Linked DNA regions of Homo sapiens: region 1 is linked to region 2. Evidence: fine-mapped expression QTL. A gene starts in region 2. The other region holds a variant in brackets. All regions are shown on one strand. Distances are between the middles of the regions.

Region 1 (15,209 bases), 300 kb after region 2:
AATGAATAATGGTAATGATTGCACAATATTGTTTATGTACTTAATGCCACTGAATTATACACTTAAAGTTGTTAAAATGGTAAATGTTATATTATATATATATATATATATTTATTATATGATTTGCTTTTTGAGAAGTTATAATTGCACAAAATTAAGGGGGTACACAGTGGTGTTTTGATACACACGTATGTATACGGTGTGGAATGACTGAATCAAGCAAATTAGCATATCCATCACCTTAAATACTTATTCACACCACCTAACTACAACTTTCTACTCTTGGACCAATATCTTCCTGTCCCTCCCTTCCATCCCCCATGCTCTGGTAACTATAATTCTACTCTCTGCTTCTATGAGTTCTATTGTTTTAGATTCCACATTAAGTGACAAGATGCAGTTTTTGTCTTCCTGTGCCTGGCTTACTGCACTTTGTTATGTACATTTTAACACATTTTTTTAAACTTAAGGTAATTTTTTTTTTTTTTTGAGATGGAGTCTCGCTCTGTCACCCAGGCTGGAGTGCAGTGGCACAATCTTGGCTCACTGCAACCTCCGCCTCCTGGGTTCAAGTGATTCTCCTGCCTCAGCCTCCCGAGTAGCTGGGATTACAGGCACGTGCCACCACGCCTGGCTAATTTTTTGTATTTTTAGTAGAGACAGGGTTTCACTGTGTTAGCCAGGATGGTCTCGATCTCCTGACCTCGTGTTCCGCCCGCAGTGGCCTCTCAATGTGCTGGGATTACGTGCGTGAGCCATCGCACCCGACCTGTGATTTTTTAAATATAAAAAAATCAATTTTTAAAAAGGATCGAGGTGCCGACCTTGAAGACCATGTTGTGGGTTAAATTGTGGTCCCCAAGAGATATGTCCACCCAGATCCTCAGAATATGACTTCATTTGGAATAAAGTTCTTTGCTGGTGTAGTTAATGTAAGGGTCTTGAAATGAGATCATCCTGAATTAGAGTAGGCCCTAAATCCAATGAAGAGTGTCCTTAGAAGAGACAGAAATGAAGACAAGAGAGACAAAGAGATAATGCCATGTAAAGACAGAGGCAAAAACTGGAGTAATCTACCACAAATCAAGGAACACGTGGGACCACCAGAGGCTCAAAGAGAGGAGGAAGAATTCTTCCCTAAAGGCTTCAGAGAAAGCATGGCCTTGCCAACATCCTGATTTCAAACTTTTAGCCTCCAGAACTGTGAGATGATAAATTTCTTTAATTTTAAACCACCAAGTTTGTGGTAATTTCTTATGGCAAACCCAGGAAACTAATTCAGATTTTAGTACATGGAAGTGGAGTGCTGCTTTAATATCTAAAAATGTGAAGGTGGGCCAGGCATGATGGCTTATGCCTGTAGTCCCAACACTTTGGGAGGCCAAGGTGTGAGGACTGCTTGAGCTCATGAGTTCGAGATCAGCCTGTGCAACATGGTAAAACACCATCTCTATTAAAAAACTTTTAAACAAAGAAAGAAGAGAGAGAGAGGGAGAGAGAGAGAGAGAGAGAAAGAGAGAAAGAAAGAGAGAAAGAAAGAGAAAGGGAAAGGAAGAGAAAGGAAGGGAAGAAAGGAAGGGAAGGGAAGGGAAGGGGGGAAGGGAGGAAGGGAGGAAGGAAGAAAGAAAGAGAGAGAGAGAGACAAAGAAAGAAAAGAAAGTAACAAAAAGAAAGAGAAAGAGAGAAAAAAAAATGTAAAGGTGGCTTTGAAATTGGGTAATGGGCTGAAAGAGTTTTGAGATGCATGATTTTAGAAAAGTACAGACTGCCTTAAAGACATGGTGGTAGAAATACTGATGTCAAAGGCAATTCTGGTTAGGGTTTAGAAGGATGTGATGAGCAACTAAGAGAAAGCTTCTGTAGTCTTAGAGAATACATACACAGAATTGTGAACATTTTGGTTCATATCAATATTTTGGTTAAGGATGCTTCTGTTGCTGTCTCAGAAGTAAATAAAGAATATGTGACTGGGAACTGGAAGAAAGGTGAGCTATGTTATAAAGTGGCTGAACTATGTTCTACTGTGGGATAGAAAGGAGAATCTGGAAGCCATGAACTTGAATATTTAGCCTAGGAGATTTCCAAGCAAAGTGCTGAAGGTACAGCTTGGTTCCTCCTTGATATTTATAGTAAAATACAAGAAGAAAGAGATAAATTGAAGAAGGAACTTTAAGCAAAAGGAAACAACGATTAACTGGGAGGTTCTCAGATTATTCAGAATACAAAGGATGCGGAAATTAGGAAATTCACTGTTAGAAAAGTGTGTTCTAGAGAGCAGGCCACGTGGCTGGACAACCATATGCTGAAGATACTAGCAGTGTGACTCATGGATCCCATCAATCATCTCAACAGAAACGAGGAATGGAGATGGGGTTATCAGTAAGGAACTGTGAAGAATCCTCTCGTCTAATGATATGGACCCCCTTGATATGTAAGGAGACTGACAAGGTTTTAAAGAATATCATACCAACAAAAATGCTGTCAGCCTGTACTGAAAGGAACAGAGATGGGACAAAATTTTTTAAAGTGTCTTACTTCTGGGATTTTATAGGCAAGAAATGGGCTAATACAGTTACTCAACTACAAACATGTGCAACCCTTCAGGGAAAAGTAAAAATGACTGAAGGCGAGCAGCATAGTGGGGGTTGGGGGTAGGGGAGAAACAGGCCCACACCAGCTGCAGACAGAGCCTCCATGGGCCCAGAGGGCAGAGGATCAAGCCACAGAGGATTATTCTCAGGCCCTGAAACCTAGAGAAATTTGTCCTGCTGAGTTTTGAACTTGCTTGAAACCGGAGATCCTTTATTCTTTCCATTTTCTTCCTTTTGAATGGGAATGTCTATCTTAACAGCTGTCTCATCCTCTCATCATTGTATTTTGGAAGCAGATAAGTTGTTTTCCAGTTTCACAGGTCCACAGATGGAGAATTTTATCCCAAATGAATCATGCCGAGTCCATACTCTTACCTAATTTAGATGATTTAAGACAATGAGATTTCAAACTTTTTGAGGTTATAATATTTGGAGATTTTGGACTTAAGAGTTCATGCTGTAGCTGGGCATGGTGGCTCATGCCTGTAATCCCAGCACTTTGGGAGGCCGAGGCGGGCAGATCACGAGGTCAGGAGATGGAGCCCATCCTAACATAGTGAAACCCCGTCTCCACTAAAAATACAAAAAATTAGCCAGGCATGGCGGCACGCTCCTGTAGTCCCAGCTACTTGGGAGACTGAGGCAGGAAAATGGCTTGAACCCAGGAGGCAGAGGTTGCAGTGAGCCAAGATTCTGCCACTACACTCCAGCCTGGGCGAGAGAGTGAAATTCCATCTAAAAAAAAAAAAAAAAAACAGAGTTCATGCTGTAATAGGTCGAGACTTTTGAGGATGTTGGGATGAGGTGAATTTATTTTGCATATGGGATGTAAATGAAGTTTTAGGGGTCAAAAAAAGAACTGTAGTGTATTAAACTGTGGCTCCCAAAAGTTATGTCCACCCAGAACCACAGTATGTGAGCAGACTAGATCTTTGGAGAGGTAATTATGGTAAGGATCTTGAGCTGAGAACATCCAGGAATAAGGTAGACCCTAAGAGACAGAAAAGAAGATGCAGAAAGAAGACCAAGGGAAGATGAAGGCAAAGACAGGAGTTTTGCCGCCACAAGTCAAGGAATACCAACCAAGCCACAAGAAGATAGAAGAGACAAGCAAAGATTCTTCCCTAGAGCCTTGATTTTGGACTTCTAGCCTCCAAAACTGTGAGATAATTTCTGATGTTTTAAGCTACCAAGTATGTAGCAGTTTTTTGGCAGCCTTAGGAAACTAATTTAAGAGACCGCCAATCATCAAAGATACAACAAATTGAACACCAAAAATAATGACTATGATAAATTAGAATGTATCACATATGGTAAAACTCATGAGTTCCTAATGATACTCCCTCCCAAACCTCACCTTTGGGAGTTGTGAGGGCGGGCATCAATTCATTTTTCTGAAAATTACTGATAAAGGGGAAAAAAATAAGCATTTATCCTGCTTTTTCTTTACAAACCGTATTACAAGGTAACCAAATAATTGATGAGGGAATTCTTTATGAAAGAATTCCAGTTAATAAATACAAAAGAAATGACCAAAAAAAATCACTCTTCTAATGAAATAATGGATATAGGCAAGAATTATCATTAAGTGAAAAGTTAAAAATAAATTACATTTGGATCCCACTGACAGAACCTAAACCAAATGATCCATTTAGTATCACTAAAAGTAGAACCACCACTTAAGTTACCTCCTAGAACGATCCAACAAGAATTCACAGCCCCATCTAATGGAATGACTATAAATCCTAATTTGTCTAGAACAATTCCAGTTTAAACTATTCCTTCTGTGTAATCATTATAGCACCCCCTTTCATTCTCAAAATTGTCTGATTGCAAATAAATTATATAACCACTCTTTATAAATATTTCTTGCCAAAGAAACTGAACCTAAACTCATCAAGCTCTACCAACTAGGGCTCTCAATCTTGGCTACAGACTGAAATCACTTGGTAAATTTTTTAAAATATTGATGATGACATTTTACCTCATGGGCTCTGATTAATTTATCGGAGATGTGGCCTAGGGATCAGGATAACTAAAAGCTCTCCAGATAATTCTAAAGTTTTAGCCAAAGTTCAGAACCACTGCTCTGTATTTAACTACTAATTTGTGGGAAATATGAGGGGTAAAGGAACATGTTAAATACCATAACAAGGATTCAATCAGCCAAATCCAAAATGTGGAAAATTATCCTGGAACAATAACCTATTTTTTTCAACAAATAAATAGCATGGGAAAGGAGCACAGGGGGTATGAGTTAAGAAAGGGGATTATTGGCTGGGTGCAGTGGCTCATGCCTATAATCCCAGCACTTTGGGAGGCGGAGGCGGGTGGATCACTTGAAATCAGGAGCTTGAGACCAGCTTGGCCAACATGGCAAAACCCTGTCGCTACTAAAAACACAAAATAAGCCAAGGCTGGTGGTGCATGCCTATAATCCCAGCTACTCGGGAGGCTGAAGCAGGAAAATCGCTTGAACCCAGGAGACGGACGATGCAGTGAGCCAAGATCACGCCACTGCACTCCAGCCTGGGCAACAAGGGCAAAACTCCATTTCAAAAAGAAAAAAAAAGGTGGGGGGAGGTGATTAAGGTTAAGAAAAACTTAAGAAACATATAAACTAAATGAAATGTGTAACTCTTAGTTGGATGATTTAAACAAATCAGTGTAAAAAGACACTTAAAGAATAAGAGAAGTCTGAACACAGACTGGATTAAGGAACTCTTTTGTTAGGTCGTAACAGTATTGTGGTTGTGCTTGTTAAAAATTCTTATCTGTTAGAAATACACACGGAAGTATTTATAGATTAAATGATGTGATGTGTGTTATTTCTTTGAAATTATTTCAACTATGGAAAAAAAGGAAGGAAGGAGGAAGGAAAGGAAAGGAGGGAAGAAAGAAGGGAGGGAGGGAGGGAAGGAGGGAGGGAGGGAGGGACAGAAATGAGTAGTTAGATGAGACAGGAATAGTAGATTAATTTTTGGCTTATAAATGTATAATATGCATGTCAGTATTAAAATACATTTGTAAGACATATTGGGAAGTGTAAAGAAAGAAAAACACATATGATTCTTGATATGTGCTGGGTTCTCAAAGAACTGACAGTGCTGGGTTCTATACGCTGGATAGACCAAAACAAAACAAAAAAAAGGACTATCTTTGGTCAAAGGCAGCTAATTAAAGCTTCTAGGAGGCCAGAAAGATGATATGAATGAAATTAAAATAACAATATAAATATTTCCTAAGTACAAGAAAGTGGGTATAGGTATGAGAAGGTTGGATAAGAACTATTACTACCCCAAAATTGCTAAATTCCAGAGATTATACCATAAACTGACTTTGAAAAACCCATGCTCCTGCTAATGGCTAAGCCACATAAAAGTGTCATTTTTTTTTAAGTCAAATGGTCAAGTATTAGCAATTTTGTTGGGTTGAATACAGTACATTTATACAATACTTGCCTTTCTCCTTTGCTAAAGTAAGTACATACAGTTAGCTCATAGTAAAATAATCAGAATTTTTAAGGGAAATATCACTTTTCTTTAAATAGTGGCTGTTCTCCTAATACAGAATTCAAAAATACCTCTTAAGTATCCATAGAAACTGAAATTTTATATTTATCTACTTACATATTCTTTAGTAAGAAAACCTTTCTGGCAAGGCACAGTGGCTCACGCCTGTAATCCCAGCACTTTGGGAGGCTGAGGCGGGCAGATCATGAGGTCAGGAGTTCAAGACCAGCCTGGCCAACATGGTGAAACCCTGTCTAAAAATTAGCTGGGCATTGTGGTGCACGCCTGTAATCCTAGCTACTCGGGGGACTGAGGCAGGAGAATTGCTTGAACCCAGGAGGTGGAGGTTGTAGTGAGCTGAGATGGCACCACTGTACTCCAGCCTAGGCGACAGAGCAAGACTCTGTCTCAAAAAAAAAGAAAAGAAAAAAGAAAATCTTTCCATTGTCAAAAAAAGTACAAACATAATCTTTAAAGTAAATCACAGCTTCAAAATATTTAGTGTATATTTTCTAAAAAATAAATGTGAGCTGTGAATACATATTTTAAGATGATCTCAAACAAAAATGTATTTCTTAGGGAACAAGTTAACTTAATGATTCCTAAGAAGTAACTTACATCAACTTTGTTTGAATGTAATTCAAATTATTCTAACATCCATACATTCCAGATAAAGAATTATGTGCTTTATTTTACAAATGAGAATATAAACACTAACCATAATATTTCTGGATAAACAAAAGTTCTAACCTATATGATCGAACAGGACCAGTTCAAGTAATAATTGATCCTGATTTAGCCATCATATCTCCAGCAAATCTCTCTGTGCCTTAATTTCCTAATTTATAAAATGGGACAATAATTGTGGTTGAAAAATACATCACATGTAAAATACTTAGAAAAATGACTGGCACTTAAGGGTTTATAATACCAAGTATTATCATTATTTATAGATGTCTCTGCTTATTACAAGATGGGAAGAACCAGCGTGTGAAAACAACTCAGAATCATTCTCAGTATTAGAATGGCCTCTCCTTTTTTTTTTTTTTTTTTAAAAAAAAAAACAGTGTCTCTCTTGCTCTGTCACCCAGGCTAAAGTGCAGTGGCACAATCATAGTTCAATGCAATCTCGAAATCCTAGGCTCAAGCAATCCTCCAAGCAATCCTCCCACCTCAGCCTCATGAGTAGACGAGGCTACTAAACCTCGGGTAATTTTTTTAATTTATTGTAGAGATGGGGTCTTGCTATGTTGTCCAGGATGGTCTCAAACTCCTGGCCTCATGCCATCCTCCTGCCTCGGCCTCCCAAAGTGCTAGGATTACAAGCATGAACCACTGTACCCAGCCACAAGTATTATTATTTACAGATCCCTCTGTGTGTTACAAGATGGGAAGCAGTGTGAAAACAATGCAGAATCACTGTATTTGAATGGCCTCTTCAAATGGTCTCTAAACAAAGAGTCAATACTTTCT[A/T]AAAGCAAATTATTCACATTGCATACATATAAACCGCAAATATTGTAATGATATGTACCGCCATGTTTTTAAGTAATACATTTAGCAAAAAGACAGAAAAGAGAAAAAGTTAATTAAGGAATTAAGAGGGATCAATCTTTTGCAATTATTTTATTATAAAATATTAAAATAACAGAAATTCAAAATAAAACTTCTCCATATCCCATCACATCATGAAGTCAATGCTTTCATTTGTTCGTATTTTCTACTGTCTATATGTGTGTTCAATTTTCACAGATTTATATATTAATAGATAACATTTTATAGTCTACATTTTCACTTAGCATTATACCATGAATACTTTTTCCACTTTGTGAAATTTGCACCCTTATACTCTCTTTCGTTTCTCCTCCCTACCCACTGAAGGTAATCAGTGGTAATATCCCAAACTGTGTCCTCCACAATTTTCTCTAAGTTCATACATGTACAAGCATATACAGACACAAATGTGGGGAGGCAAGAAAGGTCGTTTTGTTTTGTTTTTCACAAAAAATGGAAGCATACTACTTATACATATGCTTTCTCTCTTTTTTAAGCATACCAGGTATATACATCTCAAATTTAATACACACAGAATTTTAAGTATGAAAATGAATACAATTTACTAGACCGGGTAATATTTACATTTACAAAAGTTATTATTTTGTATGTAAACTTTGAAAAGACAAGGATTTTACAACAAAATATGGCCGCCCGATTTAGTTAGACCTCATACTTCATAACATACTGGTTATTATAATAGCCATGCATAAATAATTCAATCATTTATAATAAGCCTACCTAATGAGTCTTAAAAGCTATTTGAGAAAACAAAAATTTTATCATCTAAAAAAATTAAATAATATGCCAACTTTAAAGTGTGTGTGTGTGTATGTATTTGTGTGGGTGTGATGCTTGCTGTAACGCCTTCATGTATAGGCACTAGGATATGAACTTAATTCTCTCTATACTAGAGATGATAGATGAATATAGCGCTGATCCACCCACATACTCAGCTCCCCCGTGTTCACAAATTGAGAGACTAGCATTCCAGCATATTCTGAATACAAGTGTTCCGACTGCCCACAAATATAAAAACAAGACATCAGGCAGGCCTACCTAGAATTTAAGGTTGTTAACCCAATGGTCTTAAAATGCAGTCACCGGCTGGGCGTGGTGGCTCACGCCTGTAATCCTAGCACTTTGGGAGGCCGAGGCGGGTGGATCACGAGGTCAGGAGATCGAGACCATCCTGGCTAACATGGTGAAACCCCGTCTCTACTAAAAATACAGAAACAAAAAATTAGCCGGGCATGGTGGTGGGAGCCTGTAGTCCCAGCTACTCGGGAGGCTGAGGCGAAGGAATGGCGTGAACCCGGGAGGCGGAGCTTGCAGTGAGCTGAGATAGCGCCACTGCACTCCAGCATGGGCGACAGAGCAAGACTCCATCTCAAAAACAACAACAAAAAATGCAGTCACCTGCCCATCTAACCATAATCCAGAACAATCAGAAGATCCCTAAATCTGGATCCATAGGAGAGAACTCTGGGGAGTAAAGGACGCTATGAAAGATTTACAGAGCCCCTCAAAATTACAAAGCAGAGAACTTGGTACTCAACCCATAGAGCCTCTGCTGTACTAGGTAAGCTATTCTTACAAAAATAAGTCAGCAAGTCTTTTGAGTTCCTACTGTGTAGAGGTCACAAGATGTCCAGACGCAAAAAGCAATGAAATAGATACTATGTTAAAGGAGTTCACAATTTATCAAGAGAGCCAGCATATATTATCCTAAATGACCCTAAGTAACAAAGCACAATGCCTAGCATGTAGCTTATGAAATAGCACAGGTGCTTAGCAACTTTTTTGTGACATGATTACAAAGGTCAAAAGCAGTAAGCATCATTAAGTACAATACCATGTCATCAATGCAATTTCAGATTGAATAGCCTAAAGTTACTATCTAAGTCTATGTGGATAGTTTGTTTCAACTCCCTCAAGGCAGTCAATTTCCAAAGACATGGTACTGCATAGTCCCCATTAATCGGCTTGGAGTATACATATGGAATCCACATGTAATTTGGCACACACCAAAAAAAAGTGGAAAAAAGTACTTATATCATTTAAGACAATCATACCGAACATTCTAATGAAATATCAAAAACAAAATGAATTATGGATCAAAAAATATTATTTATGTATTATTTTTACTTTTTCTAGAGAGGGGGTTTCCCTCTGTCACCCAGGCTGGAGAGCAGTGGCAATATCATAGCTCACTGCAACCTCCAACTCCTGGGCTCAAGCAATGCTCCCACCTCAACCTCTGAATAGCGAGGACTAGAAGCATGTGCCACCACACCATTAATTCCAAAAATCAATGAATGTAATTTTCCTCTGTGATGAAACTGGCAAAATAATGGGGGAAACCTATACAAGTCCTGCGTATGTTATAGGTTGTTAAAAATAAAATTAACTTTTGGGCCAGGCCCGGTAGCTCACACCTGTAATCCCAGCACTTTGGGAAGCCGAGGTGTGCTGATCACCAGAGGTCAGGAGTTCGAGATCAGCCTGGCCAACATGGCAAAATCCCATCTTTACTAAAAATACAAAAATTAGCCAGGCATGGTGGTGCTTGCCTGTAATCCCAGCTACTTGGGAGGCTGAAGCAGGAGAATTAATTGAACCCGGGAGGCGGAGGTTGCAACGAGCCGAGATTGCGCCACCGCACTCTAGCCTGGGCAACAGAGCAAGACTCTGTCTCAAAAATAATAATAATAATAAAGTTTTTACTGCTACCAGTATGGTATCTTTTTTTTTTTTTCCAGCATTCCTTTAGCAGAAGATTCACAAGACCAGTAACATCTTTTAAGTGTACGACAAGAGGCAGAATATATTTAAAATCTAGTTGAATTTGTTGTCAACACACATCAATGTTTTCTAGAATATCCTAGAACATCCTAGTACAGAAGGTGAATGACAACATTCACAGCAACTGGATGCAGAAATCTCCCTGAATTAACATTACATATCTTAAGTAATTTACCCTGTATATTTTCATTGGTGGACTATATGCCATATGCCTTCATCCAAGCACAGTAAGGATCTAGTTCAAAACTGAACACAACTTGAAAATTTTAAAATTTCAAAACACATGCATTCCATACACAACATTTATACTTACAAAACTATTTGGACATACCATCATACAGCTTAACTTGCTCTATGACTAATTATTGCATTAGGTGAATCCAACATTTCGTAAACTTATCAATGGTAAAAATTTATTGTTCAAAACACTACGATGAAATGCATTAAAATAACACGACTGATGAACAGAAAGAGGGATAGAGGGGTAAATATATGATAAAACAAGTGGAATGCAATTTTTTTTTTGGAGGGGGTTTTGAGACAGTGCCTCCCTCTGTCACCTAGGCTAGAGTGCAGTAGCACGATCTCGGCTCACTGCTACCACCGCCTCCCTGCTACCACCGCCTCCCAGGTTCAAGCGATTCCCCTGCCTCAGCCTCCCGAATAGCTGGGATTACAGGCACCCGCCACCACGCCGGGTTAATTTTTTGTATTTTTAGTAGAGACGGGGTTTCACCATGTTGGCCAGGCTGGTCTCGAACTCCTGGCCTCAAGTGATCCTGCCGCCTCGGCCTCCCAAAGTGCTGGGATTACAGGCGTGAGCCGCTGTGCATGTCCGGAATGCAATGTTAACAGTAGGATCTAGGCGGTTGGGTGTATGACTGCTCCCCGTAAGTTTTATAATATTGACGGATAGTTCAAAATATTTTCCTAATAAATTGTTGGAAAAAATAATACTTGACACTTCTTTGGTCATTTACAATTTAAGCTTTTAAGGAGAGAAACACAGATTAAAGAAACTCCTCTGTGGCATCCCACACAGGCACTATAGTTGGGACAAACCTGGATTCAAATCCTACCTCAACCTTGCAACTAGCTGTGTGATCTAAGTAAATTACTTAAGCCCTCAACACCTAAATTTCCTCATCTGCAAATAGGTTCTAGGAGGAGTTACTATGAAGTTAAATTCTTCACATAAAGGTCTTAGCTCAGTGCCAGGCACACAGTAAGCACTCAAAACATCAGCTGTAGCATCATTACGAGATTACTAATTTTACGCTAAGCTGAAAGGGCATTCTTCATAAAGTAGTAATTTTTTGCCCTTTTGCTAATTGATCGTTTCTGAAACCATTCCCAAAAGGAAGACTCCTAAAAGGAAACTTACTTCTTATCATGCTAAGCGGGGAGGAAGTAAAAGAAAAGTGAGGGATATTGCTCAATCGATAGTACAGTATTGTTCGCCATCTGAAAAAAACCACTCAGAATTAAATAAGGAAAGTTTCCAGACAAACTTTAAAAGGTATTCAAACAACTCCTATGTAGAATTGGCTTCACCTCTGCAGGTTGATTGGGTACATCCCTGTTATGAGAAAACTTGTCGTATTCTTCCAAGTCCCTAATTGCGAGTAAGAGGCTAGGCTAGAACATGACATTCATAGTAGCCAAAATCTTTCTCCTAAATCAGGACATGCCAACGATCCCACTTCTTCACAGGTAAGACCACCACCCCGACTTTGGTCTAGATAACGGCTATGGGGGGAGGGGAAAGGAGGCAGGAAAATGAATTCGCGATGGTGTTACTGAAGAACCCTCCGGTTATTTCTCCTGAGACCCCTCCACGACTTATTCCCGCCACCACCACCCCCACCTGACCTCTCCCCAGTTAACTTCCAGACTCTGATGTACTAAAGATGCACTAAAGATGCACTTAAGAATCTGACACCTCCCCTCCCTGGGCCTAGATATCCCACCCCAGTGCTGGGGAACGTCGGGGGGAGGAAGGCAAACAACGGCCCCCTCCCCTCCCCCCCACCCAGCACCAAATCTTTGTCCCACCTGCCGAGGGACCGCTCGCCAGCGCGCTCCGGACCCAAGGCTGCCTCAGACCTGCCCGCAACCTTGTCCTAACTGGGCCTCGGCGACCCCTCCACGAACCTGAGTATGGCCCATTCCCGGCCCCGGGCCGCGCCCCGCCCCCCGCCGCCCGAGTTCTGCCTCACCTCACCTACCCTCTTTCGGGGGCCGGACTCCACCTCTCTCTCCGCCATGTTGGGCCCCGCTCGGAACCGCTGCGGCTCCCCGCGCGGTGGCGGCGGTACCTCTCGGCCCCCCGGCCCCCGCCCACACTGCAGGCACGGCCGCCTCGCGGCAGCTTCCCCGGACCCGGCCGGGCCTTGCGCCGAGAGTGGGGAGGGGGCGGATGCCGCGCGCCGGGCCGCAGCTTCTGAGATCCCACGGGTCCGCGCGTGGGCGGGAGGGCCTGCCCGGGGACGGGGTGGGGGCCGGGACTCGGGGGGTTAATGGCCTCCAAGGGGCCCCGTGAGTAGGATTATTTTCTCTCAGAGAAATTCCTCCGCCTGCGGTTTCTTAAAGGGATCACCAAATCAGCCCCTTGCGCGCGCCCCTGATGCGCAGGCGCACCCTAAGTCCCTCCTTCCTTTCCCACCAAGCCCCCGGTCCTGAGCGTGCGCGGTAAGTGGCCATGGGTAGGCCAAATCCTGCAAGTCTCTTTGCTGCCAGCAGCTGCTCCCACCACTCAACTATGGCCGCTCCCTTAAAGGGACCATGACGCAGGGATGAAGGAGAAATGAAAGAAATTACTGGAAAGACAATCTGGAGAATTGGGTGCAATGTCAGTGAAGGGTTCCACATCACCATCTTACACCTGACTACAGTGGTACCATTGAAGAGGGAAAGTCATGGTAAGCTGAAGTTCTCAGTGGACCTCTGAACATGAAGAATCCCAAACCAATGAGGGAACAAGACAGTCATCTCAAGGAAAACCAACTTTCCTCCCTTTCGACTGCCTGTTCTGAAGCACAAGGCATAGAATATCAAGAGCCAACTCCTATAACCTCACCTTAAAATCAAAGCTTTTGGTGATTTTGAAGATTGAACCAACAACTGGAAATAATTTCTTCAATAGTAATTTATCCTTAGAACATCAAAATGGAGAAGGATCTTAGGGAACCATTTACTCCAGTGCTCCCAATGATAAAATTGCAGCCTGATCATGGGAAGGAATTTGTCCCAATGTAACTAATGGCTGGTGTGGAGTTGGAATCAAGATTACAGTCTCAGTCCTCCAGGCTGTCTTCAGGCGAGAGATAAATTTGGTTTAATTTGATATCCCTAGAAGATTAAAAATTGAAGTTTCATGGTATTTGGAGAATATCATAATTCTCTTGTGAAGATGTAATGATTTGCAGATGATGGGTGTCCTCATTCACCTCTATTGAAGGAGCTTGACAATCTGCCTTAAAGGATAAGCATCTTATTTCTAAGCAGGAAACCAGGAAGTAGATTTGGGTCTATCTTGTTCCAAAACTGGGTCCTAAGCTGAAAATCGCTGAAAAGAATGAGGGCTTCATTCATTCCTCTTCTGTTCATTCTAGTTCCCACAAGCTTTGGGTGCAGAAAAAATTAAGTTTATAATGATAGTTCAGGGACAGTGGGGAGACATATAGTAAGAAATACAAAGAAGATGCCTCCTGAAGGTCATTTCCCATGACAAGACATATTCAAGTGGGAATGATAACTCCTGAAGTCACAGGATAATGAGATGTAACTTCTGTTTTCTGTTTTATTTAGCACTTGGTAGCTATTCTGAAACAGATGTTTTCTAATCTGTAATATTTTGCTGAAAACTTTTGGTGAAATTGCTGGAAGTTTCCATACTGGCCTTGCTTATGCCTTTAGCACTGTCTTTAATTTCACTCCTCGGTAGGAGAGAAGAAAGAAGGACAAAGAAATATGTTCATTTCAGCCAGAATTTTAAAAACATGTTCCCTTTAGTTCCATGTCCAGGACAAGAAAGAAAAGAGGAGCCAAGAAAAGATAATTCCAGGGAATGTGGCTACATAAAACTTGTAGTGGTTTCCACCTGTTTTATTGGCAGTGGAATACTCCCTTCTAATAAAATCTGGTGGTTTAAAATGTGGAGCTGCTAAGTTGGGAGTGTAAGTGGGGAACCCACTAGTCTATTCACCCAGCTTCACCCTTGCACTCTCTCTCCTTTCATGCCCCCTCCCATCATTACAGAAATGTTGAGTTTCTCAGATCACAGTTTAAACTTATTAGTTTAGTCTAACTCCACATTTTCAAGATGAAGCCTCTGAGGCTTAGAGAAGATATGATTTGCTTGAGATCACACACAGGATTAGTAACAGTATCAAGACTGAAACAGACATCTTGATCCTCAGGGCTCTGTCCTACACAGACTGTTTCTGGAGGTATTAGCAATGTGTTAGGTCTCGAATAATAGGTGGGATTTGTGCATTTCAGATAATATACAAGCATAACATGAATGTTCAGGGCAGTCATCCATATGGAGGAATAAGACAAGAGAAAACCATTTAGTGAGCACTGAAAAGTTAATCATAATTTTATAGAAGGATTCACAGAGCTTAAGTGACTAGTCCAAGATCATTCAGCACAGAGGCCAAGTCAGAATTCAAAGCCTTGTTCTTTCTGACTTATTTGAAATATCGTAAAGTAGACATTGTAAATTGGTGGCCTTGTGACCAAATCT
Region 2 (15,209 bases):
CATAATGTTTGGGGCGAGCCTCAAAAATATTATGCTAAGCAAAAGACGCTTGATGCAAAAGTCTGCATATTTATATATTCTATTTATAGAACATGTCCAGAATATGCAAATTTATGGACAGAAAGCAGATCAGTGGTGGCCTAAGGCTTGGGGTGAGAATGGAGAGTAGCTACAAATGGGAACTTCTGGGGATGGCAGAAATGCCTCAAAATGGATTTTTTTGTGGTAATGGTTACACAACTCTACATTTACTAAAAATCATCAAATTATATTCTTACAATGTGTAAATTTTAGGTATGTAAATTTTACCTCAAAAAATCGTTAAAAAATGCAAGTTCCAGGGCCATACTTCCAGGGGTTCTCATGCAGTCAATGTGGGGTGGTGCCCAAGAAATTTGCTTTTTTTTTTTTGAGGCAGAGTCTCGCTCTGTCGCCCAGGCTGGGGTGCAGTGGCGCAATCTCAGCTCACTGCAAGCTCCGCCTCCCGGGTTCACGCCATTCTCCTGCCTCAGCCTCCCGAGTAGCTGGGACTACAGGCGCCCGCCACCACGCCCAGCTAATGTTTTTTTTGGTTTGTTTTTGTTTTTTTAGTAGAGATGGGGTTTCACCGTGTTTGCCAGGATGGTCTCGATCTCCTGACCTCGTGATCCACCCGCCTCGGCCTCCCAAAGTGCTGGGATTACAGGTGTGAGCCACTGCACCTGGCCAAAATTTGCATTTTTAACAAGCACCCCCTGGGGGTCCTGATGCATGTGGTTCCTTGGACTACACTTAGGGTACCACTGGTCCAAAGCTTGAAGGGGTTGGAGCAAGAGGAAGGTAGACGGGAGGAGTAGTGACCTGCTCCCTGGCCCACACTGGGGCACAGCATGTGCAAATGCCCTCCCTAGAGTCTCCTCATCTCCCCTGCTGGGACCTGCCGATTAAGTTTCCTTCTCATCAACTGCCAGAGGGTTTCTTTCTTTCTTTTTTTTTAAGATGGAGTTTTGCTCTTGTTGCCCAGGCTGGAGTGCAATGGCACAATCTTGGCTCACTGCAACCTCCGCCTCCCGGGTTCAAGCGATTTTCCTGTCTCAGCCTCCGGAGTAGCTGGGACTACAGGCGTGCACCACCATGCCTGGCTAATTTTTTTTGTATTTTTAGTAGAGATGACATTTCACCATGTTGGTCAGGCTGGTCTCAATCTCCTGACCTCAGGTAATCCACCTGCCTCGGCCTCCCAAAGTGCTGGGATTACAGGCATAAGCCACTGCGCCCGGCCCAGGGTTTCTTTTACATATAATTTCTATCCTTCACTCCCCTGCTCCAAGGTTTTCCATAGCTCCCACCATTTTCAGGTAAAGTCCAAACTCCATCTGCACATTTTTTAAGTTGCTTTCTGGGGCAGAGAGTAGCCTGGGAGGCAGGTGAGAAAGGGTTGTGGAAGTGCAAGTTCAGTAAATTTTTGATATTTTGTTTATCGTGGATTTTTGCACTATTTTCATTTAAAAAGGCCAAGCGTGGTGGCTCACGCCTGTAATCCCAGCACTTTGGGTGGCTGAAGCGGGCAGGTCACTTGAGGTCAGGAGTTCAAGACCAGCCTGGCCAACATGGTGAAACCACGCCCCTACTAAAAATACAAAAATTAGCTGGGCGTGGTGACAGGTACCTGTAATCCCAGCTACTTGGGAGGCTGAGGTACGAGAATCTGAGAGGCAGAGGTTGCAGTGAGCTGAGATCGTGGTGCTGCACCCCAACCTGGGCGAGAGAGTAAAACTGTGTCTCGAAAAAAAAGATTTTTTTTTTTTTTGAGACAGAGTTTTGCTGTTGTTGTCCAGGCTGGAGTGCAATGGTGTGATCTTGGTTCACTGCAACCTCCGCCCCGCAGGTTCAAGGGATTCTCCTGCCTCAGCCTCCGGAGTAGCTGGGATTACAGGTGCCTGCCACCCCACCCAGCTAATTTTTGTATTTTTAGTAGAAACGGGGTTTCACCATATTGGCCAGGCTGGTCTCGAACTCCAGACCTCAGGTGATCCACCCGCCTCGGCCTCCCAAAGTGCTGGGATCACATGGTGTGAGCCACCGCCGCCCGGCCTCTTTTTTTTTTTTTTTTTTTTTTTTTTTTTTGAGATAGTCTCCCTCTGTTGTCCAGGCTGGAGTACAGTGGCATGATCTCGGCTCACTGCAACCTCTGCCTCCTGGGTCAAGCAATTCTCTTGCCTCAGCCTCCTGAGTGGCTGGGATTACAGGCTAGCGCCACCACACTGGGCTAATTTTTGTATTTTTAGTAGAGATGGGGTTTCACCATCTTGGCCAGGCTGGTCTCGAACTCTTGACCTCAAGTGATCCGGCCTCCCAAAGTGCTGGGATTACAGACGTGAGCCACTGCGCCCGGCCTATTTATCTTGATTACTGAGTTTTTTGGCACCCTCTCAAATTCTGTCCCAGAAGTCAGTATCTCACTCATCTCACCCATGTCCTGGCTGCTTAGAGATTGTCTGGGAAGTGGAGACCCTCCCCAGCTCCCTCCTCCTTCTCCAGGGCCAAAGACAGCAAGGAATAGGGCGACTGTTTACATCAGCTCCTGTCCTAGAGATCCCCTGAGATTGGACAGCTGAGCCCGTGGAGAGGGATTCCCCACCCCCAAGTAGGCAACCACCCACTCTCCTCCAGAGGGAACGAGGGATCCATCTCAGTTCTCATCCTTGACCACTCCCCTCCAGCTCTGATTGTATAACCTGAAACCCACACACGGTTTGTAACTTTTTTTTTTTTTTTCCGAGACGGAGTCTCGCTCTGTTTCCAGGCTGGAGTGCAGTGGCGCGATCTTGGCTCACTGCAATCTCCGCCTCCCGGGTTCAAGCGATTCCCCTGGCTCAGCCTCCCTAGTAGCTGGGACTACAGACGCGCACCACCATGCCCGGCTAATTTGTTTGTAACCTTTTTAACCTGTCTGGCTTTTCCACAGGGAGAGGATTTGCATATGCTGTGTCCTGTGTGATGAAAGGAGCCCTTTTTACACACCCCCTCTTTCAATGCACTCAGACTTCAAAGCCCATCACTCATTCATTCAACAAACACCCACTAAGCACCTCTTGAACCCGGTTCAACTATCTCCCCTCTAGGCACTCACCCAACCTCGGGCACTCTCCGCGCCTCCTCTGAGCTCCTCCCGCGTCCCATACAGCCCCTGCTCACTGCTGGAAAATATTCCTGTTAAGCTCCGTCTCCCCACCAGTCCTGCTTGCTTTCTGTGTGTCTGGGATAGGTTGCAAAACTGGAGGTGACAAATGTGGGCAGGAAATGGAGGGCTCCCTTATACTCCTAGGGTCGGCCTCAGCCCTGCCATTTCCTGCCCAATACCGCGGATGCAACTGGCATGGGACCCGGAAGTGTGTGGTAAAGCGCCGGGGCTTCGCCTGGCCGCCCCTCCCGGACGCTTGCCTGCAGTCAGCGAAGCTTTTCCAACCCAGGTCTGGGCCCTGCGAGCTCCAGGTGCCTCTGCCCCGCGGCGCTGGCGAAGTCGAAGCCCGAGAACGCCCACCGCAGCGATGCGAAGGCCGCTTCTGGGGTGGGGCTGAGGCTGCAGCTGCCTCCCTTTCGCACCAAGGACCCCAACCTTCAGCGACGCAGCCGCCGCTCCCGCCCAGGCTGGGAGGCACTGTAGGGATCCGACGCTTCAGGTGGCCAAAGAGCGACTTTCTCTGATTCCAGGGCCCTGGCGGGGCAGGCTCCAGTACCGCACTCGGCGGAGGCCGAAGGTCTGTGGGGCAGGACAGGAGTTCCTCGTGCCGTCGGAAGGGCCGAGGACGAAGGAGGGCGCTAATTCACTCCCCACTGGGCTGGCGGCAACGCCGAATCCCGCAGTGACCGCGGAGGGCCAAGGTGAAAACTGCTGGGGGCGCCGAGGGCAGGTGTGGGGAGGGGCGGCTCCAGGGAGCAAGGAGCCCACCTGCCTCGCCGCCGCAGCTGCCCTGGGTCGACCGCCCACGCTTTCCCCTGGGTCACGACCTCCGGATCCAACTGTGCCCGGCTCCTGCCCCTTCCCCTTTGCTGCTGCTGCGCGGGCTGTAACTTGACGTCTAGGCTGGGGCGTCCAGGGCGCAGTCTCCGCTCAGGTCGCCAGCGCTCCACTCGCTCCACTGGGCCACAGACCCGCTGGCGCTGGGGTCCCGCTGGCGCTGGGGTCCCGCTGGCGCTGGGGTCCCGCTGGCGCTGGGGTCCCGCTGGCGCTGGGGTCCCGCTGGCGCTGGGGTCCCGCTGGCGCTGGGGTCCCGCGGTTGTGCACGTGAGTCCGCGTGGCCCCGTCCCGCGCGGTTGTGCACGTGAGTCCGCGCGGCCGCGTCCCGCCCCGCTCCAGGGAGCCAGCGCGCCGCCACCTGGGATGTTAGGACTCTCGTTGTGTTCTTTGGACTGCTTTGGGGGATTTCGGCGTACCCCTAGGATCTAGGAGTTTTGGAAGTTGTTTGAGAGAAACCAGCTCTGGGAGGGCCTCGCATCCAGTCTCCTGTCTCGGCTTCGGACCGGGGTTCCGGGTTAAGGTGCTCAGAGGAACAGCTGATCCTTCTACCCTTGCGCAGGGCAGAGATCCCCAAACCTCTTTCTAAAATGCAGGGTCTTAGTCTTTCTCAGGGAGTCAGTGAACCTAGACTCCCAGTCTCTTGAGCCCAAGCATGAATAGGGAACTGGGGACCACCACCATGCTCATATTTCTGGTGGCCAGGAAGTCCAGGCAGGCTTTTGCCCACTGCAGACGGATCTCTTTCTTCAGGGGTCAAGAAAGGCTCTGTACAGTAAGCCAACCAAGCCCCACCAGCAGAGCTGCGCTGCAACCAGGTTCCTAGTGTCTTTCCCACACTCCCAGTTCCAAGCGACACAGGACACAGCCCCAATTCCACCTCCCCCCACCCACTTCCTGCCCTGTTGCCTCATCTTCCCTGCTACACACTCCAAGTCATCCACCCAACCCCCAGCTCCTGGTAACTCAGCCCCAGCTCCTGGAAGTCCAGCCCCAGCCCTGCTACCACCACTTCCACCTTGGCCTCCCCTGAGAACAAGTGGAGGGCAAATAGAGCCCAGGCTTGAATTCACTCGTTTGAAAAACAACTCAAGCCAAACCCTGTGGGAGCAGTGCCTGCCTGGGGCACCTCAGGCTCATGTGCACCTCTGAATTCTTTCGGGCACCTGCCCCAAATGTAAAGAGGCTGCTACCCAATGCCTGGGCCCCTCTGACTCTCTGCTCCTCTCTGGCTGTCTCTCTGTTTTTGTCGTCTCTCACCTTCCCCTGTCATGGCCAGTACTTGGTCCTCAGGCCAGAAAAGGTGGATCCCGTGTCCCTGGATTTTACTAATGCCAGGAGTCACATAAATACTCCTATATATACACAGAGAGGGCCCGCGCATGCTTGGAAATCCTCAGATACCAAAGAACAAAGTGCAGGACACAACAGAGATACTGTACATATTGAGAAATGTGTACATCCCCCAAATGCAGAGAAATGCACACCAACATACAGAGACACACCTCACAAACACATTCACAGAAACAGACACACTCACACTCCAAGAAATACTAAGACACCCATGAAGGGAACATTTCAGACATGCACAGGACCCTGAACTCACATGGACACAGACACCCAGGAGCAGGTGGGCCCTGACTCAGGTGCACACAGCCTAACACACAGTACTCACACACAAGCTCCCCTAAGTCTAAATGCCGCAAGAGACTCCCACAGAAAGAAAATTCCCCCAGAGGCCTCCAAGGCCCTGCCTGGAAGGAAGAGGAAGAAAGTGCCCGCCAGGCACCGAAATGCTAAGGCACTGTAAAGTGAAAATCATTTCCCCAACTCCGTGGGAACAGCACTTCCATTCCCATCTCTTAGGGAAACAGGGAAGTGGTTTAACTCGTTCTGCAAATCAACTCCAGATCCACAAGAGTGCCCTCCCCCTCGGCGGGGAGAGGCCAGGCTCCCAGTGCTGCAGCCCAGTGAATGCTGATCCGCTGAGGCCCACCCCAGGCCACAGGGTGCTGGGCAAACTCACCAAGCCCGCACGTCTGCCTAACATCTGGCTGGGCCAGGAAGAGTGCCTGGTGGACACCCAGCCTGGCGACACACAGGAGGCACGGCCGGTGAAGAAAATGGATCTGTGCACCAAGGGCCTGCACCATCTCGCCGGGCTCTGCCCTGACAGACCATTCCTTACCTTTCTTGATCACGGACTGGTCTAGGAGGCTCATTCCCGGCTCGTCCATTGCCTGCAAATAGCAGAGGGCAGCGGTGAGGGCGCATAAAGCCCTAGCCGCCCATGTCTTCCCAAGCCCCTGCCACCCAGGGTCTCTGTCTGCTCCGCCCAAGGCGCACCAGCTTCGCTTGGGGCGGCGACGGGCAGGCCCAGGAATCGCTATGTCCAGGCACTGAGCTGGAGCCCTGGGCATCTCACTGTGCAGTGCAAAAAGGGAATTTTGAATCTTACACTGGTAACTATTATGCTTCTCTTCGCCCCAGGTGCAGGCTGCCCCATGGATGCCACACGTGGCAGCGGGGAGAAAAGAAGTGATTCGGTCCCTGCCGAGGGTTGCTGCCACCCACGCACTGCTGGCGGACTCAGTGCCAGGCAGCCTTGATGGCCAGGCAACGTCTAACCCAGGAGGTGGGACACATCCTCGGAGTCACCAGTGAGATGTGGCGAGCTGGGAGAAAAGTCGGCTTCCTGCATTTGTCACCTTCTGCCTCCAGCCATGGTAGTAAACCACCGCGGCCAGTCCCGACCCATCCCGGATCCCTCGGGTCTCACCTGCAGGTCCTCCAGACCGGGGGCCGCCGCCAGCCCCGGAAGGCCGAGAGGTGCGTCTGCCAGGCCGTGCGCGCCGTCGGCCAGGCCGTGCAGGAGCCGGGGCACGGCAGTGGCATAGTCACGGCGCGGGTCAAGGCCCAGGGCGCGGGCGGGCGGTGCCAGCAGGCCGGGAGGCTCCTCGTGGGCGCGGGCGGCTGCGCGGGGCGCGGCCCAGGCGGCCTGAGGAGGCTGCGGCTGCGCCAGGGGCGCCAGGCCGCCATATGGGTCCCCTGCCAGGTGGGGAAAGGCTGCGGCGGCGTCGGGCGCCTGACCGTAGGGCAGCGGTGGCTGCGGGTAGGGCGGCGGGAAGTAGGGCGGCTGGAATTCGGCGGCAGCTGTGGCGGCCGGCGTGTGGCAGAGCGGGGGCGCCGGCCCGTAGGCCGCCTGGGGCAGAGACGACAGGCGGGCCCCGCCGGCAGCTGCTCCCAGCCCGTCGGGGCGCTCCTGGGGAAGGAGAGGGGTGCCTTAGGTGACCCACTGGCAGCTGAAAGGACCCCAGCCTGAAAGGATCCTCCTCAGCTCGGGAGGGTTCAGCTGCAGTCCCTCCCGTTTCTTGGGGCCCGAGGTTTATTTCCGAGCCACCCGCGGGCGCAGGAGCCTCAGGCTGGGGACAGCGGTCACTTGCGCATCGCGTTCTCAGCTGGCGAAGTCCCTGCGGCCCCCTCCCTCCGAGATTTCGTTAGCGCGGGACAGGAGGGTTGGAAAGTCCAGCACTCAGGCGCCCCGATCCCCCGGCCGAATATGTCCCGGGCCCGAGACTACTCACCATGGCGGAGTAGGTGTGCACCAGCATGGGGCGGTGAGTGCCGGGCGCGAGGCGTGGCGGCGGCGGAGCCCTAGCCCGACGGCGAGCGCTGCGGGCAGAGGCGCCGGGAGCCGGCACAGCCCGCGGAGGTCACGGTGCGGTAGCTGGGTGCGACCCAGCCGGGATCCTAGTGGGCGTGGGGTCCTCAGCGGTGGCCGTTCCCGGGCGGGTCCATGGAGGCAGGACGGACGGGCACTGATCGCACTTGGAAAAGTCGGTCAACGGGTGCCCAGCGCCCGCCCTTCCTCCTCTGAGCGTAGCCTGCTCCATGCACTCCAGTTATAGTGGCGGGGGCGCGCCGGGCCTCCGGGGGCGCGCATTAAAGAGACAAGCTATGGCAGTTCTCTCCCTTTTCCCCAGCGGCTGCCACAGGGGAGGCAGTGGCTTTGGCGGGATCGGGTAGGGTGGGTAGGGGGCGTGAATTCAGCCCACATTGATCAGAGCCGCCTTCTGGGCTCGCAGCTCGCAGCTGCAGTGAAACAGAAATATTCGAGGCTGGGACGCAAGGGCCCTACATTTGCCTGGCTCTATCACATCCTTGCCTTTAAGCAAAGCACTATTCTTCGCTGGCCTCAGCTTCCTCGGTAAAATAGGTATCAATCCTTTCTCTAAGCACCTCAAGAGACTTTGGATGAGGTGGGTAATCGGGAACGTGGAAGAAGTTTGTGAGCTGAAGACTCCAGCCTATCTGCTCATGCGCACACAGTGTCAGTGCGTGTGTTTAGGGGGTCTACCATCACAGTCTTTCCTGAATGGTTCTGGATCAAAATCCCTCGAAGGTGCCCACTTCGCTCTCAGGCTTCCTGGGCTGAAAACTTCCAAGCCAAGCCAGGCTCTGAGGGAGTTGGAGACAGAAGCTGGCCAGACAGAGAGAGAGACTTGCCTGGGATGGGTTTGGGTATGAGCTCCACCTGACAAGGGGCCAAGATATTTCTGAAGCCACAGGGTCCTGGGCTGATTGAGTGTGGGCATGAGATACCCAGAGACTGTTGAGTGACTGTGTGTAACTGACTAGCATGGATGCCGTGTGATTGTTACACTAACATGCGCAGGCTACATGTTCCTGTGTTACCATGGCAGGCACTCCCTGGCTGTCAAGCAAGTTCCAGTCTCTGTAGTCACTCTCTCTTTCTCCCCAAACCCAACCCTCCCCTCCTGACAAGCAGAGACAGGGATTAAAGATGGACAAATGAGAGGAATGCTAAGGAGAACAGGAATTAAGAAAGCAGAAGAAAGATGTTTTTTAAAAGCAAGATGTGCAGACCAGGGCAAAGTAGAAATAATCACAGCAGACTTATTACAGAATGTGCCAGCCTCTGTGCAAAGTGCTTCACGAATATTGGGTTCTTTAACCCTCACAGCAGCTCTATGAAAGAGATACCCATATCATCCCCATTTTCAGGGGAGGGGTGAGGCATGGAGAGGTTAAATGGCTTGCCCAAGGTCAAGCAGCTAAGTGGCAGAGCTGGGGTGATCTGCCCCTGGCCCCTCTCTGCTCAGAATCACTATTCTCTACTGCCTCAGACTCAGGGGCTTGGATTTAGTCCTGACTCTGCCTAACTGTGTGATCCTAGCTACATCCCGTTTCCTCTGTGATCTCAGTTTCTGCAACTTCGACAACACCAATAAAAAAGTAGGGGAAGGCAGAGAAGACTAGTTGTTTTTTTAGGTCCCTTTTTAGTGAAGTAGTAAATGAGAAGATTAAGGTAAAATTATTGATATAGAAGAGGAGGTGATAGTGACACCATTAACTCATGGAATATATGGTTCCAAGTGGGTATCCCAGAAGGCACATGGCAGGTGCAGAGCTCAGGGCTGGATGATCTCAGCCTGGGGAGTGGTGGGGAAAGAAGGAGGCTAGAAGCCAAGGATTCATCATTAAGAACTTTCTGAAGTCTGGAACCGCCAGCGAGGTTCCAGAGGATGAAGCGGAATTGGGAAGCTTTGCAACTTTCCTGCTCGAGATGGGTCAGAGATCAGGATTGTGTTTGTGTGTATCTATATATGAGGGAGTCTGTGGCAATGCCCTGTTCCTCCCTCCCTCAACCCCAGCCACAGGGCATCAGAAGTCAAGCTCCAGGACAGGTGTCAGTGCGTGAATAGAAATTGATGAACTCCTCTGGGAGAAGTCTAGGAGCCGCAAAGGAGATGATGCCTGTGCCCAGCTGCGGGGATGCCCCTGCTCTCTCCAGCAGCTTGGGAAGGCCAGAGTGGCGGGATGTGCTGCCTGTCTGTGGCTTCCTTGGGTTTTCTCAATCTACTTCCTACACCTTTGATAGCCCCTTTTTGCCTCATTGTCCTACTCCGACCATTTCTGTCTTCTTTTCTGTTTCTCTTTTCACCTACATGCTTAATGTCGGTAATTCTTTCTCAGAGCAGAGAAGCTTCTTTTTCTTCCTGCACTCTTCATGAGTGAGCTCATCCCCTCTCAAGTCTTTTTTTTTTTTTTTTTTATAACAGAGTCTCACTCTGTTGCTTGGGCTGGAGTGCAGTGGCACAATCTCGGCTCACTGCAACCTCCACCTCCCGGGTTCAAGCGATTCTCATGTCTCAGTTTCCTGAGTAACTGGGATTACAGGGGCCCACCACCACGCCCGGCTAACTTTTGTATTTTTACTAGAGACAGGGTTTCATCATGTCAGCCAGGCTGATCTCGAACTCCTGACTTCAAGTGAACACTCGCCTCAGCCTCCCAAAGTGCTGGGATTACAGGCATGAGTCACCACGCCCGGCCCAAGTCTTTAATGACTACCTGTCTACTGTTATCTCCCAACTGTGTTATCTCTGGCCTGAATCACTAGTGAGAGATCCAGACCCATAGACACAGCTGCCAGCTGCGTATTTTCTCCAGACATCTCATTGCAGCTGTCTGAAATTTTCCAAGTCCAACACTGAACTCAACATCTCCTCTATCCCCAGCACCAACCCCAACCTGCTTCTCCTTTGCTCTGTAGTTTCATAAATGACACCACCCTTTTTCAAGTTCAAAACTTGCTAGTCATCCCAGAAGAGCGTAGGTCCTTTCCTTAACCCCCACAAGCTAATCCTTATGGAGTGTTGCCATTTCTAACCCTTAAACATCCACCCACAGAAGGTATGTGGTGGAGAATTGAGGCAGGTATCCCAGAGGGCACATGGCACCCTGTCTCAGCACCTTAAACTACCTTACTCTTACTCATAGATCAGTGGCTCTCAAAGTGTGGTCCCTTGAGCCCAGGAGTTTGAGACCAGCCTGGGCAACACAGCCAAAGAGTGGTTCCTGGACCAGCATCACCAACAATATCTGGGAGCTTGCTAGAAGTCCCAATTCTTGGATCCCACTCATGACCTTCTGAGTCAATAACTCTGGGGGTGGAGCCCAGCAACCTGTGTTATTAATAAGTCCTTAAGGTGACTCAGAGGCACATTAAAGTTTAAGAACCACTATCTAGGCCATTGCAACAATTCTCTAACTGGTCTCCTGACTTTATTCATATCTCTTCTGATCAATTTCCAACTTCCACAAGAGTGACTGGACCATGTTACCTCCCTACTGAAAACTTTCCTAGGGCTCCCCATGACCCATCTTCGGGGGAAAAAAAGTTTAAACATTCTAATGAGCATTCCAGACTCTGCAGTTGTGACTAACTTACTTTTCCTCTTTCAGGAACTGCTTCACAAGATTAAAGGAGAAACAGAAAATGTATCTAGCGCTGTGCTTGGGGCATGGCAGGAACTCAATGAATGCTTATTAAATACTGTAAATGATAAACACATCAATGGATGGTGTTATGAATCCACTGGCCTATTAAGGGATCCTTTAGGAAGGCTCTATGTGAACATGATCCTGGGTATCTACACATAGAACCCAGGTATAATCTGAAGAGATCATCTGATAAGTGAGTGATTTTGATTATGGCTACTGGGGAGAGGGATGTTCTCCATGGTCTGCTGCTGCTTTGAGTCTCCCTAAAACATCAGAGTCCCATGATTTCAGACTCAGGACTACTTCTTTCAGTGCCAAGGGACTCCTCACTCTCTGAGGCATGGAGGTGGAGATTTCTGGTTGTCTGCTCCCTGGGACACATGCACACATGTGGAGGCCTGGGGTGCAGTGGGGTACACATGCAGACAGCCTTGGGAACATGGGGCACACAACTTGCACAGAGACATTCATGGGAAACACAAGTACACATAGGAACATGGGACATATATTGACATAGAGTTGCATGCTCAAACATACGTGGACTCCCATTTGGCACACTTGGCATACTGCTTTTCTCCAAGGCTCCTTCTCTTTTCAAAAAGTGAGCTTGCATTTGGATTTTATGTTAAGAAAAAACTCTGATCTGCCTCATTTATTGTTGACACAGCCACCCTCATCCTCCCAGCCTTTGATCACCTCCTGCTCCAGGCCAGGCTGAGTGTTTGCAGGGTGGGGAAATCTGGCACAAGGAGATGCCAAGGCGCCATCTCGTGGTTAGATCTCACAACTGCAGCTCAGATCTCCCTTTTCCCCACTCCGCTGAAATACCAAGAGCAAGCCAGAACTCTCTGACCATACCTCATTTAAGCACAGAACTCTGTCTGCCTTGTATTAGGAAGCTTTGCAGGGTTTGACTTCTCCACTATGGGAGGGAGAGCACCCTGACAGCAGGGACCATGGGTGGCTGTCACTTTATTTGGGACCTTTCTCTTCTCTTTTCACTTCCCCAGATGATCTCAGTCCCTCCCATGACTTTAGGGACCCTCTATACTGACAGCTCCCAAATCTGTCACTTGCCCAGACTTTTCTTGAGCTCCAGACCATAGAAAGCAACTACCCCTTGGATATACCATGAGCAGCACAAATTCGCCATTTACCAAGTTGAGTTGTGTATGGTATGCACAAATCTGTCTCTGTCCCAGTGTTCCCAGTGACAGTGAATGCCCCATTATCCACTCAGTCTCCCAGATCAGGAATCTGGGAGTCATCCTTGGTTCTACTCCCCTTCTCTTTACCCCTCTTCACTTCCAGTTAATCACCAAGTCCTATTAACTCCTACCTGTATCTTCTCCAGCCTCATTGCCACTGGCTTAGTTCAGACTTAGCATCTCCTCTCTGAGCTCCCTGGCTCAGCCATTCCTCTTGCAGTGCCTCATCTTCCCAAAATGCAAACGGGATCACATTCAATCTGCTAAAAAATCTGCAGTCTAGCCGGGGATGGTGGCTCATGCCTACAATCCCAGCACTTTGGGAGGCTGAGGCAAAAGGATTACTTGAGGCCATGAGTTTCGAGATCAGGCTGGGCAACAGAGTGAGACCCTGCTTCTAAAAAAAACAAAACTGCAATTTGATCTCTCAGCATGATTCCACGTTTAAGCTTCTGAGCACAGCACAGTAGGATCTGGTCCATGCCTGCTGGTTCAACCTCATCTTCCACCACTCCACACTTCACACTCTATACACCATGGAATGCGAAACTACTCGTAGTTCTCAAGCTTGCATGCCTTCAGACCTTGCTGTTCCTTTTCGTGTCTGCCTGGCAAGCCCCTCCTCACCCTGAAGTCTCAGAGCACATAGTTGCTGTAAGTTTTCCTGCAATCGTTTGGCCAGTCTGAGGGGCTCGCATGCTCCAGCCACACTGTGTTTGGACCTACATAGAAGCCACTGCTTACAGTTTTTTTGTTTTTGTTTTTGTTTTTTTGAGACAGGATCTCACCCTGTCTTCCAGGCTGGAATGCAGTGGTGTGATCATAGCTCACTATAACCTCAAACCCCTGGGCTCAAGAGAACCTCTCGCCTCAGTCTCGGGAGTAGCAGGGACTACAGGCACGAGGCACCATGCCCGGCTAATTGTTTTTCTTTTGTAGAGATGGAGTCTCACTGTGTTGCCCAGGCTGATCTTGAATTCCTGGGCTCAAGTGATCCTCCCACCTCAGACTCCCAAAGTATTGGGATTACAGGCGTTAGCCACCACACCTAGCCTCTATGTCTTTTCATATTTACCCCAGAGAATCCATGCTAAGAAGATGGCTTTCAGTACAACCAGTCAATAAATAAATATTCCTGTCTATGCATAGCCAACCACAGGTGGGCACATAGGCTATGCTCAGCACGTGCTTATAGGTTTGAGGGCCTAGGTGGAGGAGGTTGCGGAGGGTATGGGTCTGGGGCCTGTCTGGCTCCAACCTCACAGCTTTGGCTCAGGACTGGTGAAGTACCCATAGTGGGTACTTGGCTCATCTGCTGAAGCTTGCAGGCCCTCTGGCTTCTCATTTGGCATACAGGATCAACAGCTGGTAACCTGAAAGCTACATTTGGACTGCATGTTTTGTTGGATCAGTAGTTATTTAATTAAAGATAGTTACTGACATTCAAAAGTTGGGTTTCACATACAAATTAGGATTCCTGACTTCTTTAAAAATGGGAGGATATGGCAGGGCCACTTGGCAGCAACCCAGTGACATGGGGGCGGGGGTGCAGTGTTTCATCTGTACTTGAGAGCACCAGAGCCCCCACAAGGCCTGGCCACATCAACATGAGTTTGGCAATCTGCTGTACAAGTGAAAGATGTGGGCTGGGGAGTCGGATGGCCTGTGTGGAGTCCTGGCTCTGGCACTGACTAGCGGCAACACCTTGAGCCAATCACTTATCCATGCCAAAGTTGCTTTGTCTGTAAAATCAGAACCCTTCAGAGGATTCTTGGAAGGGCTGAATGAGGTCTCATGATGTGTTTAGCAGGGCATGTGTTCAGCACCTGGTAGCTGTGAACTGATGGAGCCTGGAAGGGAGAGAGCAGGTGCAGGGCAGACCACGCAGGAGGCTTCTCGTCACCAATGAACATTTATTGAGTGTCCACATGTGCACAGCTTTGAACTTGGCGATCACAGAACGCACTGGGGGAGGGAAGCAAGGGATCAAGAGTGTGTGTGTGTGTGTGTGTGTGTGTGTGTGTGTGTGTGTGTGTGTGTGTGGTCCCCCTGGGTTTATAAGAAAGGTAGTCCCTGCTGGAGCCGCCAGTCGCGTCTCTGCAGAGAGGAGTCATAGCAGGGGTGGGAGTTAAAGCCAGGCACCACGGTGGCAGTGGAGTGTAATCACTGGGGAAACATGCGGATTCTGGGGAAGTGTCCCTCCTGTTCCTGGCTCCAGCCAGGCCAGATGGCACCAGGGGGACAGGAATCAGATGCTCAGGTGTCCAAGCAGGGATAAGGACAGGCAAAATAAATAACCCCCCAACCCCCATCGTCACTCTGCTGCAACACGACACAAAGGTTTAAAGATCTGGGCCCAAAGACTCTGGGTCCCTTCAAGCAAGCTCAGGTGGAAGGAGGTTTCCCCACCCCCCACCAGGCCTGTCTGCCCCAGGTTGCCCTAGGATGGAGGCAGTTCAGACCCTGGGTCACTGAAGCTGATAGGAAGAACTGCGATATCAATGGCCTAAGCCTGCTGTCTGCCCAAGGGAGCCAAGGGCAAGAGCCAAAGGGCCAATTTAAAGGACGTGGACCTGGGGGGCCAGAGGAGGCACCACAGCCGAGGGGAGCCCACGCCCTGGCCGGCAGGGCACATGGGCTGAGGCAGTCTGCTCCTGCCAGCCCTGTCTTACCCTGGAGCCTCCCTCCTGCAGGGG

Direction of the effects. Positions count from the first base shown, and alleles are read on the strand shown. Sizes are in standard deviations (SD) of each study's normalised expression.
For the expression in stomach of the gene that starts at base 7,872 in region 2, allele A in region 1 goes with a lower level than allele T (moderate effect, 0.69 SD a copy in GTEx).

Evidence for each region. PIP is the estimated chance that this variant, and not a neighbour inherited with it, causes the effect. A credible set is the group of variants that fine-mapping cannot tell apart.
Region 1: its variant is the best candidate, but not a certain one, in a credible set for the expression of TFAP2E in stomach (GTEx, PIP 0.53).

What each region holds. Positions count from the first base shown.
Region 1 is chr1:35,266,564-35,281,772 of GRCh38, reverse strand. It overlaps ZMYM4 (zinc finger MYM-type containing 4), which reads right to left and starts at 13,064. Exons shown (of 30, transcript NM_005095.3): 1 at 12,688-13,064. The coding sequence starts at 12,726. RefSeq lists enhancers at 8,465-8,965, 13,235-13,294, 13,315-13,374 and silencers at 12,545-12,674, 12,745-13,104. The variant A/T (reference allele first, on the strand shown) is at 7,577.
Region 2 is chr1:35,565,977-35,581,185 of GRCh38, reverse strand. TFAP2E (transcription factor AP-2 epsilon) reads right to left here and starts at 7,872. Exons shown (of 7, transcript NM_178548.4): 1 at 7,582-7,872; 2 at 6,777-7,259; 3 at 6,186-6,237. The coding sequence starts at 7,608. TFAP2E-AS1 (TFAP2E antisense RNA 1) reads left to right here and starts at 3,324. Exons shown (of 3, transcript NR_183387.1): 1 at 3,324-4,520; 2 at 6,488-6,826; 3 at 11,267-11,375. It overlaps NCDN (neurochondrin), which reads right to left. Exons shown (of 7, transcript NM_014284.3): 7 at 14,407-15,209. RefSeq lists enhancers at 3,246-3,415, 3,426-3,495, 3,871-4,723, 6,421-7,167, 7,409-7,908 and 2 more and a silencer at 10,868-10,969.